2 linked regions of the Homo sapiens genome follow. The protein of the gene in region 1 purifies or fractionates together with the protein of each later gene. This does not show direct contact. Each region holds a gene or a part of one and is shown on either strand. Other genes may lie near its edges.

Region 1 (3,825 bases):
CAGGGGAGGGGAGGGGAAGGGAAAAGAAAGAGCAAAGAGGAGGGGAAAGGAAAGAGGAGAGGAGAAGAGAAAGGAGAGAGGAGAGGAGAAAGAGGAGAGAAGAGGGGAAAGGAAAGGAAAGGAGAGAAAAGGCAAAAAGTGAAAGAAAAGGAAAAGAAGAAAGAAAATAATCCAATTTTAAAATTGGCAAAAGTACTGAATGGACATCTTACCAAAGAAGATATAAGGATGGAAAATAAGAATATGAAAAATGCTGAACATCATTTGTCTTTAGGGAACTGCAGATTAGAACAATGAGATATCCACTTCACATCTACTAGAATGTCACTGTGACAATGCCAAACAAGAGAAAATCTTATTATTGCCAGTGAGAATGCAAAATGGTATAGCTGCTTTGGAAGACTATTTGGCGGTCTCTTACAAAACTTACTACTACCATATAATCCAGCAATCATGTGCTACTAGGTATTTACTCATCTGATTTGAAAATTTACATTCACACAATAACTTGGATGTGAATGCATATAAACAGGTTTATTCATAACTGCCAAAAACTGGAAGCAATCAAGATGTACTTCATTAGGTATTTGGATAAACAAACCATCACACATCTATCCAATGGAATATTATTCAGTGATATAAAGAAAGAAGCTATCAAGCCACAAAAACACGAGTGAATCTTACTGTATACTGCCAAGTGAAAGAATTTACATACTACATGATTCTAATTATGTAACATTCTAGAAAAGGTAAAACTACAGAGACAGTAAAACACCAATGATAGCCAGTGGTTTAAAGTGGGGGAGAGTTGGATATGTGAAGCACAGACTTTTTAGGGTAGTAATGGTGAATATAAGATAATCACGTTAATAACCATATAACTTCAAAGCATAAAGAATAAACCTCAACATGCAAATTTTCAAAAAATTATTTAGGAGAATGGGGGATCCTAGATTGGCATGCAGACTGCGACAAAAAGTCTAACTATATTCCAAATGTATGAAACAACCTCATCACAGGGGACGTAGGAATAAGGTGCTGACCTTTGGAAATGAGTGGAATATGTAAGACTAAAGAAAGAAAAGACAGGCACTCTACCCTAGTTGATAAAGTTGTTTTCCATGGTGGTACAGGTTAACAATTCTGAAATCACTATATCTGTATACTGAAATTGAACAAGTAAGTAAATGGACGACTGATCGTGGAAGCCAAGTTTCTCCCTGTTGAAGGAGGAGGTTATGGCAGGGGAGGAAGATAAAATAATCTATATGGTAATGGATTTGAACTGAAGACATCAATATAAATTCATGTTCAGCTTAATATGGATACCGATGGTCACACATAGAAATATTTACAGATATATGTGTAATACAGGTTAGTATAAACACATATACTAACATATCTCCTTGTGTTTGTCAGCTTAGAGGGCCTAGAAGCAGTAACATCCCAGGGGCAACGAACATACTTAGCACCCAGATCTTGGTTTCTAATAAAATTCTCCAACAAAAGGAACCAAGTCTCCTTGGAAAAATGGCTGTTTCTAAAACTAGGGCAGGAAATAAACAAAATGAGCACAGAGCATCTTGTAATGCCAGAAAGTAAAAGTTGATGTACACACATACAACAATGGGAGTATGTCAAAGAGATACAAGACCCAAGTGAAAGAACTCCCAAAGGCCAAAGCTGGGACAAAATAAAAGAGCAGTACTGAAGTATAACCCAACACATTAAAAAAAAAAAAAAAATCGGCTGGGCGCAGTGTCTCTCGCCTGTAATCCCAGCACTTTGGGAGGCCGAGGCAGGCAATCACCTGAGGTCAAGAGATCGAGACCATCCTGGCCAACATGGTGAAACCCCATCTCTACTAAAAACACAAAAATTAGCCGGGCATGGTGCTGCGTGCCTATAATCCCAGCTACTTGTGAGGCTGAGGCAGGAGAATCGCTTGAACCCAGGAGGCGGAGGTTGCAGTGAGCCGAGATCACGCCACTGCACTCCAGCCTGGGCAACAGAGCGAGACTTTGTCTCAAAAAAAAAAAAAAAAAAAAAAAAAATCTATGTATTCATACTGACGTAAGTAAATGATTGAATAAATAATTGGGGAAAAGACAAATCTCCCACGCAAAAAAATAAAAAAAAAATCCAAATAATTTATTTAGACTCTTTGCTCTCAAGGAAGTAGAACTCCCCATTCCTTAAGTGTGCAGCGCACAGTGACTTTCTAGTAAAGAATACAGAAAGGGAGAAAAAAAGAAAATACTAACTTCAAAGTGAAGAAACCTAACAAACACTACCTCAAGTCAAGTGATCAAGGTTAACATTAAAAGTGGCAAGTTGGCCGGGCGTGGTGGCTCTCGCCTGTAATCCCAGCACTTTGGGAGGCTGAGGCGGGCAGATCACAAGGTCAAGAGTTGGAGACCAGCCTAATCAACATGGCGAAACCCCGTCTCTACTAAAAATACAAAAATTAGCCGGGTGTGGTGGCACGTGCCTGTAATCCCAGCTACTCAAGAGGCTGAGGCAGGAGAATCGCTTGAACCCGGTAGGCAGAGGTTGCAGTGAGCTGAGATCGCACCACTGCACTCCAGCCTGGGTGATAGAGGGAGACTCCATCTCAAAAAAAAAAGAAAAGTGGCAAGTCACACTGACAGTATGTATTGATGAAAATTGTACTTTATCTCTGTTGTCTTTCTCTCCGAAACACATTACCCCAATATAATAACGAGAAAAACATGAGACAAATCTCAACTGACATTCTACAAAACACCTGAGCAGTAACCCTCAAAACTTTCAAGAGCATCAAAAACAAGGAATGTCTGAGAACTATCACAATCAAGAGGTGCCTAAGGAGACAGGACTACTCAATGTAATGTGGTATCCTGGATGGGATCCTGGAACAGAAAAAGCATATTAGAGGAAAAATGAGGAAATGCGAATAAAGTATAGCCTTTAGTTAATAAAGTATCAATACTAGTTCACTAATTATAACAAATGTACCATATTAATCTAAGATGTTAATAATAAACTGGGTGTGGAGTATATAGGAACTCTATACTGTCTGCAATAATTCTGTAAATCTAAAACTGTTCCAAAATAAAATGTTTATTTTTAAAAATGCAATCAAGGTGTTATAAAATAAAGTTGAGAAAATATCCTAGAAAACAGAACAGAAAGGGATAGAAAACAGGAGAGAAAATATTAGAAATTAGAGAATCAATCTAATGAGGTTTAATATTCTAATAAAAGAAGTCCAGAAAGAAGGAAGGGAGGGAAAGAAGAAACTGTCAAATAAACCACGGATATGGTCTCCAAATGGAAAGGGCCCATTTGGGGCCCAACACATGAATGAAAAACTCTTACCAACCAACATCATTGTGAAATTTCAGAACACCTGAATGGTTGAAGGGAGGATCACCCCATTTAATACTACAGTCTGCATCCCCTACCTCTCCTTTCCCCAACATTCCTGAACTTCCCACCCCAGCCTGCTCTTTTTTCTCTTTTCTAAAGCAGTTATTTACTTTACAAACTCCCAATGTTTTGTATAATTTATTTATTATATTTGCTGTTGAACAACTCCTCCCTCCCTGAATTTAAGCTCTATAAGGACATGAATCTTGTATTTTTGTTCACCTATATATTCAAAATGTCTTGACCAGTGCCCGGCACATAAAATGTGCTCAATACATACTTGCTGAATAAATATAAACGCTTCCAAAGAGATATAACAGGTCACAATCAAAGGATTGGTTATCATAAATGTGAGGGTTAAATAAAAAAATGGTTGACCATGCAAGAACCCAAAATATGTGCATCCCATTCTGT
Region 2 (3,825 bases), on another chromosome or scaffold:
AGTTCAATCACATGGTGGAAACTATATGGGTCAGAGCATTCACCAAGTAACTGTTGCCCAAAGCTATAGCCTAGGACCCGATCAAATTGGTCCACTGAGATCTCTGCCTCCAAATGTGAATTCCTCAGTGACAGCACAGCCTGCTCAAACTTCATATTTAAGGTAAGTTTTGGGAGCTGTGTTAATTTTATATGTGTTAATTTTCCTAGATTTTCAGAATGAGAATATATAGACCCTTATTAAGATGAAGTTACAGAACTGTTTATTCATAATCCTGTGAAGTGGAATGGTGTTACCTTAGCTTTGCTACCCATACTGAGATTATTGCCCGCCCTTAAGCTTACAGTCTGCATCCTTGGGGCAAAAGCTAATTGTCCTTTATGAGACTAAGCCCATGATGTGCTTAGCACTGTGCTATAATCAGCCTGTGAAGTAGTCCCAGACTTATTTATCTGCATGCACTCCTAAAAATTAGAAAACTGTTGTTACTTTGACCCTTAAGAAGGGCGTTTGAACTGTGGAATTTGTAGTTCAGGTTTTTTTGTTTTGTTTTTTTGAGACAGAGTCTCCCTCTGTCACCCAGGCTGGAGTGCAGTGGCTAGATCTCTGCTTACTGCAACCTCCGTCTTCCAGGTTCAAGCGATTCTCCTGCCTCAGCCCCCTGAGTAGCTGGGATTACAGGCACGCGCCACCATGCCCAGCTAATTTTTTTGTATTTTTAGTAGAGACGGGGTTTCAGCATATTGGTCAGGCTGGTCTCGAACTCCTGACCTCGTGATGTTCCACCCGCCTCAGCCTCCCAAAGTGCTGGGATTATAGGTGTGAGCCACCACGCCTGGCCAAGTTTTTTTTTTTTTAAGACAAGGTCTCACTCAGTCGCCCAGGATAGAGTGCAGTGGCATGATCTCAGCTCACTACAGTCTTGACCTCCCGGTCTCAAGCTATCCACCCACCCTCATCAGCCTCTCCAGTAGCTGGGACTACAGGCAAGCACCACCATGTTCTGCTAATTTTTGTATTTTTTTGTCAAGGTGGGGTTTCGCCATGTTGCCCAGGCTGGTCTCAAACTCCTGAGCTCAAGGGATCTGCCTGCTGTGGCTGCTCAAAGTGCTAGGATTACAGGCATGCACCACTGCACCCAGCCCTATAGTTCTTTTTTTAAATAAAAACACTTTTACTCTAAGAGTTGTATTTAAATCTTTCTTTCTATTCATTTTGCTTAACCATACAAAATGTTCATTCAATATAATCATATGTAGATGATCTATAAGGTCTCTTCTCACCCTCAAACTCCATGAGTATGAATTTTAGATATTATATGAATATTAAATAAATCTGTTTATATTAGTGTTCAGTTAGAATAAAATATAAAATTTTGCTATGTTTGGTAACACTAGGAACTGTGGAGAAAAAACTGGTGTAGTTTTGAAACTAATTCTCTTTTATTGCAAGCAGTATATTTGGTGGAATTTAAAATTACATAATTTTTTTTATTGAAACTTTTTTTATAGATGGGGTTTTATCACCCAGGCTGAAGTACAGTAGTGTGATCATAGTTCACTGCAGCCTCCAACTCCCGGGCTTAAGGGATCTTCCAACCTCTGACTCCTGAGTAGCTGAGACCACAGGCGCATACTACACCCAGCTAATGTTATTAATTTTTTGTAGAGATGGGTATTGCCATGTTGCCTGGGCTGGTCTCAAAGCAGGCTGACCTCAAGCAATCCTCTCACCTTGGCCTCCCAAAATGCTGGGATTAAAGCCATAAGCCTCCAAGCTCAGCCCTAAAACCGCTGGGCATAGTATGTATATATATGTGTATACACACACACACACACACACACACACACATATATATATATATATATATTTTTTTTTTGGGGACGGAGTCTCACTCTGTCACCCAGGCTGGAGTGCAGCAGCATGATCTTGGGTCACTGCAAGCCCCACCTCCCGGGTTCATGCCATTCTCTTGCCTCAGCCTCCTGAGTAGCTGGGACTACAGGCGCGTGCCACCACACCCAGCTAATTTTGTTTTTGTATTTGTAGTAGAGACGGAGTTTCACTGTGTTAGCCAGGATGGTCTCGATCTCCTGACCTCGTGATCCGCCCTCCTCGGCCTCCCAAAGTGCTAGGATTACAGGTGTGAGCCACCGCTTCCAGCCAAAAGTATATATATTTTAAGAGAAATGTATGCCACAGTAGTTATAGGAACAAACAAGTCTTGCAATTTGGTGTGATTTTTCAGCTTAGTTTGTGAAGTGTCAATAAAGAAACTATAGTTTCGGACTATCCTGAGGGTTGATTTTGGGCCCTATACAGACTATGCTGTTTTCCTTTTAAAAGTAGAAAGTCCTTACTGAAGGAAAGCTTGAAGGATGTTTACAGAGAAGAGGTGGACTTCTTTGTGCTGGATTGGGAGATGGGGAAGGGAGAATATGGGCTGAAAGTGGCATCTTGAGCCAGGGCTCCATTCTCATTGCAAATGGCCAAGGGTACTTCTGTCAGGAACAGTTTGCATCTCCTCAGGTGGTTTCTGAATGTTTTTAGTTAGAGATTCTGGAGAAGGGAAGTTAAATTGGCCTTAGAATCTTACATTTTGTTTGTTTTCAAGTACCTCTCTCTTCTTACCAAATATAAAAATTACATTAACAAGCTCGGCATGGTGGCTCATGCCTGTAATCCCAACGCTTTGAGAGGCCAAGGCCAGAGGATCACTTGAGCCCAGTAGTTTGAGACCATCCTGGGCAACATAGCAAGACCCAGTCTCTACAACAAAAATTTTTTTTTAATTAGTTGGGACTAATTTAAATTTTTTTTAAATAGTCCCAGCTACTCAGGAGGCTTAAGGCAGGAGGATTGCTTGAGCCCAGGAGTTTGAGAATGCAGTGAGCTATGATCTGCACCCCAGCCTGGGCAACAGAGCAAGATCCCATCTCAAAAATAAGAAGAAGAAAATTTGATTAACAGTATTCAATGGCTGGAATGATTAAATTGTAATCAGAACAGCAGAGCTACGTAAGCTTAAAAAGAAGATGGAAAAGGCATTTTTGTCATGATGATTGATCTCTAACCTTATATATTGCAAAGTAAATATGGTTTTCTTTTTAAAATTTTGTTTGTAGCACTGGACAAGACACTGTTTCCAATCCTACTTATATGAACCAGAACTCTAACCTACAGTCAGCTACTGGTACAACTGCTTACACACAGCAAATGGGGATGTCTGTGGATATGTCATCTTATCAGAACACTACTTCCAATTTGCCTCAACTGGCAGGCTTTCCGGTGACAGTTCCAGCTCATCCAGTTGCACAGCAGCACACAAATTACCATCAGCAGCCTCTCCTTTAGAAACAAATCAAGCATTTTCTTGAAAGCCTTCATAAGTGTATTATTCAGTCCTTGTGATACCAACCTGAAAATATTAAAACTTTTTTCCCTCTCAACTCAAAAGGACCATGAATAAATAAAGCACAAAAACCTCTCTTATTCTACAAGGCCATAAAAGGTTTTTTTTTTTTTTTTTTTTCAGTCCAGTTTGTTTGAAGTCAATCTTTTCATCAGAGGCAGCTTAAAGATGCTTTCAGTTAGTTTTGTCTTACTTTCAGATTTCTCTACATAAATCTAGATACTCATTAAGTAGCCTTATGACAAACAGTATGAGATACTTATGACAAACTCGCTCTGTCACCCAGGCTGGAGTGCAGTAGCATGATCGACAGAGTGAGTTTGTCAAAAGTATCTCATACTTATAAACAGTATGAGATAGGAGGATTAAAATATTATTTTAAAGAAACCACTGTTTCCCCCTAAAATGTCATA

What was found.
Region 2: the proteins of ZFYVE16 (region 1) and STAM2 purify together in Homo sapiens (affinity purification with western blotting, with the first as the bait; one study listed by BioGRID). This does not show direct contact.

The regions. Positions count from the first base shown.
Region 1 is NC_000005.10:80,414,477-80,418,301, reverse strand, and holds part of ZFYVE16 (zinc finger FYVE domain-containing protein 16), read right to left. Parts: intron 1-3,825.
Region 2 is NC_000002.12:152,120,103-152,123,927, reverse strand, and holds part of STAM2 (signal transducing adapter molecule 2), read left to right. Parts: coding exon 1-162; intron 163-3,125; coding exon 3,126-3,354; 3' UTR 3,355-3,825.